Linked DNA regions of Homo sapiens. The protein of the gene in region 1 purifies or fractionates together with the protein of each later gene. This does not show direct contact. Each region holds a gene or a part of one and is shown on either strand. Other genes may lie near its edges.

Region 1 (3,500 bases):
TTGCCTCCTTTTGGCCATTAAACAAATGTGTATAGAGGGCCTGCTATGTGCCATGTGCTATGCCAGGCACTAAGGATACGGCACTGAACCCTCTTAGCACTCTCATTCCAGAGGGGATTAATCCATAAGTAGAATGGGGGTGACTGGAATAGGGCCAGCTGGGGGCTTGGAGGCATGAAGATCAGATCCTGAATCAGAACAACAGGAGAAATTCTCTGGCATTCAACTCACATCTCTGGCATTCAGAGGTGATAAAGGCTACAGCAGGGCAATAGGACTGGGACTGTCGTCTCCTTTGGCTGTGCTGTTGCCCTCTAAATGTACCCTGCTTTTTCCCACCTTTTCTTTCTCTGTTCGCCCTCACTGTGCCTTGTCCCAGCATTCTCAGACACCATCCACATTGAACCCCACAATGCCAGCCTCTGAGCGGACAGTGGCCTGGGTCTCCAACATGCCTCACCTGTCGGCTGACATCGAGAGTGCCCACATCGAGCGGGAAGAGTACAAGCTCAAGGAGTACTCAAAATCGATGGATGAGAGCCGGCTGGATAGGGTACGATGGGCTCTACCAGCTCCAAGCCCCAGTGTTTCCTTTTACCCACAGGGGAGATCTCTAGTCACTTCCAAGGGAAACCTCCAGGGTCAGTTATGGTGGTAAGAAAAGGCAAAGACCTGATCACCTCTTGAGAAGCCTTCCGTCCATCTGGGGAGACCAGATACACACAGTTGTTAAAAGTCACTTTCAACTCTATTTTGTAGGTTATATATATCATAGACTATCTGGGGATCATCTATTTTAGGCTTACCTCCATGTTCTTCCCCAGGAGGAACATAAGCCCTGGCTCCTGTGACTGCTTAGGAAAGGAAATGTTACTTTACTGGCAGTAGGAGCTAATAAATTGGATGGGGATGGAGGGGGTTGCAGCTATATTACAAGTGATGTCTGGCCTACCCAGTCACTGTCCCATGGGCATAAGTGACAGTCAGTGGGCAGGGAATGCATGTGGTAAAGTAGTATGTATCAGTCATGTGTGAAAAGACCATCCAGACCCTCACTTGGTGGAGGCTGAGGGCAAAGGGCACCAAGAGCTCTGGGGCTAACACAGATAACTTAGCAGAAAGTTACTTGAGGAAGCTGTTGTTCCTAGGGCCTGAGGAAGAGGGCGGCTGCAGGATTAGGTCATATATAAAGAACATATGATCCTAACACGGGGAAGTGGTCTTTGAGCATAGGAAATGTTGGGACTGACTCAGATGGGCTTGACCAGCAAATTTAATGAGAATTAAACCCTAATATTAGCCCCAAGGCAGCCACCGTAGGAAGTTAATTCACATCTCTCCTCTGCATGTAGAAGGGTTGGTGATATATGTATGTATCCTCTTCAGAGAATGAGGAAATAGTCTTTTGAATCATTTTTTTTTCTGTGCTTCAGATGAGGAAACCTTGTTGAGAAAGGCTGTAGACTAGCACTATCCAATATAACTTTCTGCAGTGATGAAATGTTCTGTAATCTGTAGTGTTCACATGTGTCTAGTTGTGATTCAGGAACTGAATTTTTAGATCTATTTAATTTTAATTTTGTAATTTTTTTGAGACAGGGTCTTGCTCTGTCACCCAGGCTGGAGTGCAGTGGTGCAAACATGGCTCGAGGCAACCTCCGCCTCCTGGGCTCAAGACATCCTCCCACCTCAGCCCCCTGAGTAGCTAGGACTACAGGGTCGTGCTACCATGCCTGGCTAGTTTTTTTTCTTTTCTTTTTTTTTTTTTTTTTTTTTTGTAGAGACGGGGTTTTGCCATGTTGCCCAGGCTGGTCTAGAACTTGTGAGCTCAAGTGATCTACCTGCCTCAGCCTTCCAAAGTGCTGGGATTACAGGTGTTGAGCCACTGTGCCTGGCCTAAATTTTAAATAGCTACATGTGGGCTGGTGGCTACCATATTAGACAGCACAGCTGTAGACTCTAGAGCCAATAGGGCAGATAAAATGACTCTTCTGAGCTCTTCCAGCTCTGGAATTCCTAGATTCTCAGCCTAGAATTCACTTGTAGACCTCCTATCCTTGGCACCTTGACAGAGCCAAGGAGAGGGTCACATGGAGGACAGCACCTGCCTTTCCCCCGTCAATTGCCTTTTCTTCCTATGTCTCCAGCATGTGTTCTGGGGCCTGGCTTAGGGCTGAAGAGTCACCCTATTTTTAATTTCTGAGCACAGTTACTCAAGGTGTGTTTGTGAGTGTAGGTTTCTGTGTGGGTCTTCATGAGGGGCCATACATAGACCTCAGGGTGTGGGAGTCTGTGACCTTGCTCCATTTTGAGGGAACCTCAGCACCATGGCAGGGTCTTCTCAAAAGCAGGTGTGTGGATATGATCCACAGGCAGGGAAGGGGTTGGGGAAGGCAGCTGGATGTCCCTCAACATGCAGTGGCTGTGCTTGGCAGACAGGGATGGAGGCTGGGTGGTGGGCTTGGGGTGGGGCGCCCCTCATAGTGCGGGGTCGTGTGCCCGGCGGGCAGGTGAAGGAGTACGAGGAGGAGATTCACTCACTGAAAGAGCGGCTGCACATGTCCAACCGGAAGCTGGAAGAGTATGAGCGGAGGCTGCTGTCCCAGGAAGAACAAACCAGCAAAATCCTGATGCAGTATCAGGCCCGACTGGAGCAGAGTGAGAAGAGGCTAAGGCAGCAGCAGGCAGAGAAGGATTCCCAGATCAAGAGCATCATTGGCAGGTGAGGGGCGGCCTGGGGAGGGGGTTGTGAGGGAGAGCCTGAGGCTGGAGAGAGCAAGTGGGTGAGCTACTCCGCTGACTCCCATCCCCAAACTCAGGAGCCCACCAGGAGAGCCCACCACTCTCCTCCCCAGGAAGCCACCCACTCACTCATCACCAGATGGAGAGAAACCCCAACCTGCTTAGTGCATTAAATATCTCTTTACCAAACCCTGACCTCTCTTCTGATAGAGTAGCTTCGGAAGCCCTTGGAAAATGTACCTGTTCCTGTCCAACCATCACTGCATTTGCATTTACCCTAGGCCAGAGCTCCCCACTAGTTATTCTCAACTTAACCTGTGATGTTCACTCCAAACCTAAGCAGGGCTCCCTAGCCAGAGTAGGCCCTGCCCTTCCTGGGTGGACCCTCCCTCTCTAGCCTTGGAAAGGTGTTCTGTTAGAAAGGGTCTTTTAGCCTGTGTATGTTTTCAGCTGCTCCAGCAAGTCCTGGGCTCCAAAGAGGGTATCCTCAGCAAAGAGGTCAATTATCTTCAGAGTGGTGGGGTCGGGGTGGGGGGGACCCTGGGCGCACTCCAACCAGAGCCACCTCCATTTTGATCCATTCTAAATGTATTTTATGTAAGATTTAATTAGAAGAAAAGGGCTTCTTGAAATATTTTTTGAAAACCACTGCTCTAATTGATATCCTTTATGATAAATCACCTCGAGGATCTTCACAGTGAGGTGACATGGGGGATGCAGAAGCCAGGTCCTCAGCCATGGAAGGTCTGGGGAAGGGG
Region 2 (3,500 bases), on another chromosome or scaffold:
CGACCTTCACTTGATAAGACCTCTTGTGAGACCAGTCAGTGCAGAGTCAGCCAGTGATAATTGTTCTCTTTAAGGGGAGGCACATGTTTGGGGTACAGTGAACGTAGGTTGGAGCCTTAGTTTGAGCATTGGGAAAGTCAGTGGAATCAAAAGTCTGGTTCAAGTCCCTGCCCTGCCTTTTCTTCACTGAGTAACTTTGAGAAAGTTGTTTTACTTTTCTAAGCCTCATTTTTCTAATCTTTAAGTTAATGTCTAAAGTCCCTTTCAGCTATAGAATTGTCTTAGTGATCTTAGCCCTATGGTAAAAGATTCCAGTATAATTTAAGAATTTGGCCAAATGGTGTTTGTTTGTTTTTGTTTTTTTTTTTTTGTTTTTGTTTTTTTGAGGCAGGTTTTCCCTCTGTTGCCCAGGCTGGAGTGCAGTGACCCGATCTTGGCTCACTGCAACCTCTGCCTGCCAGGTTCAAGTGATTTTTGTGCCTCAGACTCCTGAGTAGCTGGGACCACAGGGATGCAGCACCATACCCAGCTAATTTTTGTATTTTTTGGTAGAGATGGGGTTTCACTATGTTGGCCAGGGTGGTCTCGAACTCCTGACCTCAAGTTATCCACCTGCCTCGGCCTCCCAAAGTGTTGGTATTACAGGTGTGAGCCACTGCACCTGGCCAAAAAAGTTTATTAGTACATGCGATTTTAAAACACCAGTCATATGAAATTATATCCCCTTAAATCACTGTGTCTAGGTTATACTGTGTCTAGGTTATACAACCTTATTGTTGAATTTTATTACCCAAACACTTGTTTTTTTGAGACCGAGTCTTGCTCTGTTGTCCAGGCTGCAGTGCAGTGGCATGATCACAGCTCACTGCCTCAACCTCCTGGGCTCAATCAGTCCTCTCACCTTAGCCTTCTTTGTATATGGGATTACCGGTGTGCCCTACCATGCCCAGGTAATTTTGATATTTTTTTTTTTTTGTAGAGACAGGGTTTCACCTTGTTTCCCAGGCTGGTCTTGAACTCAAGCAATCTACCCACCTTAGCCTCCCAAAGTGCTGATTATAGACATAAGCCACTGTACCACTTACCTTATTTAGAGCATTCTTCCTAAGGTCCTCCAGGTACTTTTCATTAGCTCTTTTTCCTGCCTGAAATACTCTTTCCCCGGAACTTATAACTGGCTCCTTTGGCTGTTCTAGTCTCTTAAGAGAGGCTGTTCCTGATCACCCAATCTAAAGTGAACACCATGTTTGCTTCTGTCATAATTCCTTATTTTAATTTTATTGTAGCATGTACTACTGCATGGTATGACATTTTATTTCTAGTCTTTTTTTTTTTTTTTTTTTTTTTTTTTTTTTGAGACAGGGTCTTACTTCTACATCCTCGAACTGGGCTCCACTTTTTTCATTATTAAATTGTATCTGGCATATGGCAGCAAGAACAGAAATGTCAGTTTCTGCTTGACTTTGGTATTGGGGCTTCTGATGGGGAAAAAAATTGAAACAAGGAAGTGAGGAGACTTCAGTGTAAATTTAGCTTGTCATTTCTCAGGAATCTTACGTATGTCATTTGTTACCTAGTCTTTTACAAATTAATAAAATGATTGCTGTTAGGATCTTGATTGATGATATCAAAACATGTTAATACCACACTTTTAATAGAAAATGTGGTAAATTATTGTGGTATAAAAAATGCAGGCCAGGTGCGGTGGCTCATGCCTGTAATCCTAGCACTTTGTGAGGCCGAGGTGGGCGGATCACCTGAGGTCAGGAGTTCGAGACCAGCCTGACCAACATGGAGAAACCTGTCTCTACTAAAAATAAAAAATTAGCCAGGCATGGTGACGCATGCCTGTAATCCCAGCTACTCGGGATGCTGAGGCAGGAGAATCGCTTGAACCTGGGAGGCAGAGGTTGCAGTGAGCCGAGATCGCGCCATTGCACTCTAGCCTGGGCAACAAGAGTGAAACTTCACCTCAAAAAATAAAATAAAATGCAAAAGGTACAAAAGAATATAGTAGTAAAAAGTAAATCCATATTTTTCATCCAGTCCCATTTATCAAAGGTAACTCTTGCCAGTTTTTGTGAATCCTTTCTAGAACTATTCTCTGCATCTATATAAGCACATTTTTTCCTTACTTTGCATAAATAAGACTGTTATATAGACAGCACATGCCTATATACCTTCGTCTTTTTTAATGACTGTATATCATTCCATCATAGGTGAACTCTGATGTATTTAGCATTTAGCTTGTTTCTCCCTTTTGCTATTACCATAAGGCTGGAGTACCCATCTTTTAAACCTTGCACGTGTTTTTGTACACATGTGGGAATAAATTTGTAGGATAAATTCCGCAAAGTGGAATTGTTGGTCTTGAAAATAATTGCATTTAAAATTTTGATATATATTAGTGGATAGATTTTTAAATCCTTAATATACCTCCAGTGGAAACTAAAACAAAGATATTATTTTAACTTACAAATCAAATAAGTATTTAAACTATGTTGGCATCATAAAATAAGGCTCCTGATAACATTTATGATGATTTAATAAATATTCCAGATATTGATTATAAAATTGTTTCTGTTGTAAATTAATAAACTTTTCATTTATGGAACACTGATGGTAGAAATCTACATTATTGGAAAACCAGTTGTCTTAGTCCATTTTCTGCTGCTATAACAATACTTGAGACTGGGTAATTTATAAAGAAAAAAATTTATTTGGTTCATGGTTCTGGAGGCTGAGAAGGGTGAGGGCCTTCTTGCTGTGTTATCCCATGGCAGAAGGCGAGGGTGAGAGAGAAAGCAAGAAAGGGTCGAACATGCCTTTTTTTTTTTTTCTAAAGGGACAGGGTCAGGTGCAGTGGTTCATGCCCATAATCCCAGCACTTTGGGAAGCTGAGGCTGGAGGATTTCATGAGACCAGGAGTTAGAGGCTGCAGCAAGCTATGATCATACCACTGCAATCCAGCCTGGGTGACAGAGCAAGACCCCATCTCAAAAAATAAGGAGTCGGGCCGGGCATGGTGGCTCATCCCTGTAATCCCAGTACTTTGGGAGGCTGAAGCAGGCAGATCACTTAAAGTCAAGAGTTCGAGATGAGCCTGGTCAGTATGGTGAAACCCTGTCTCTACTAAAAATACAAAAAAATATAGCTGGGCTTGGTGGCATACGCCTGTAGTTCTAGCTACTTGGGAGGCTGGGGTGGGAGAATTGCTTGAACCTGGGAGGTGGAGGTTGCAATGAGTCGAGATCGCGCCATTGCACTCCAGCCTGGGCCTCACAGTGAGACTCCATCTCAAAAACAACAACAACAACAACAACAAAAGGAGTCTTGCTACTATCTTACCCATGCTGGACTTGAACTCCCAGGCTCAAGGGATCCTCCCACTTACACCTGTAGCTGGGATTACAGGTGTACCCAGATGAACTCACATTTAAAACCAACCCACTCCTGCAATAAGGAACCCAGTCTTACCATAATGACGTTAATCCATTCAT

What was found. Proteins that work in one complex are often made in the same cells at the same time.
Region 2: the proteins of SYNGAP1 (region 1) and ATP6V1D purify together in Homo sapiens (co-immunoprecipitation; 2 studies listed by BioGRID and IntAct, with this or other methods). This does not show direct contact.

What each region holds. Positions count from the first base shown.
Region 1 is NC_000006.12:33,444,065-33,447,564, forward strand, and holds part of SYNGAP1 (ras/Rap GTPase-activating protein SynGAP), read left to right. Parts: intron 1-379; coding exon 380-553; intron 554-2,510; coding exon 2,511-2,722; exon of another isoform or gene 2,723-2,734; intron 2,735-3,500. UniProt on the Homo sapiens protein: Major constituent of the PSD essential for postsynaptic signaling. Inhibitory regulator of the Ras-cAMP pathway.
Region 2 is NC_000014.9:67,353,305-67,356,804, reverse strand, and holds part of ATP6V1D (V-type proton ATPase subunit D), read left to right. Parts: intron 1-3,500. UniProt on the Homo sapiens protein: Subunit of the V1 complex of vacuolar(H+)-ATPase (V-ATPase), a multisubunit enzyme composed of a peripheral complex (V1) that hydrolyzes ATP and a membrane integral complex (V0) that translocates protons.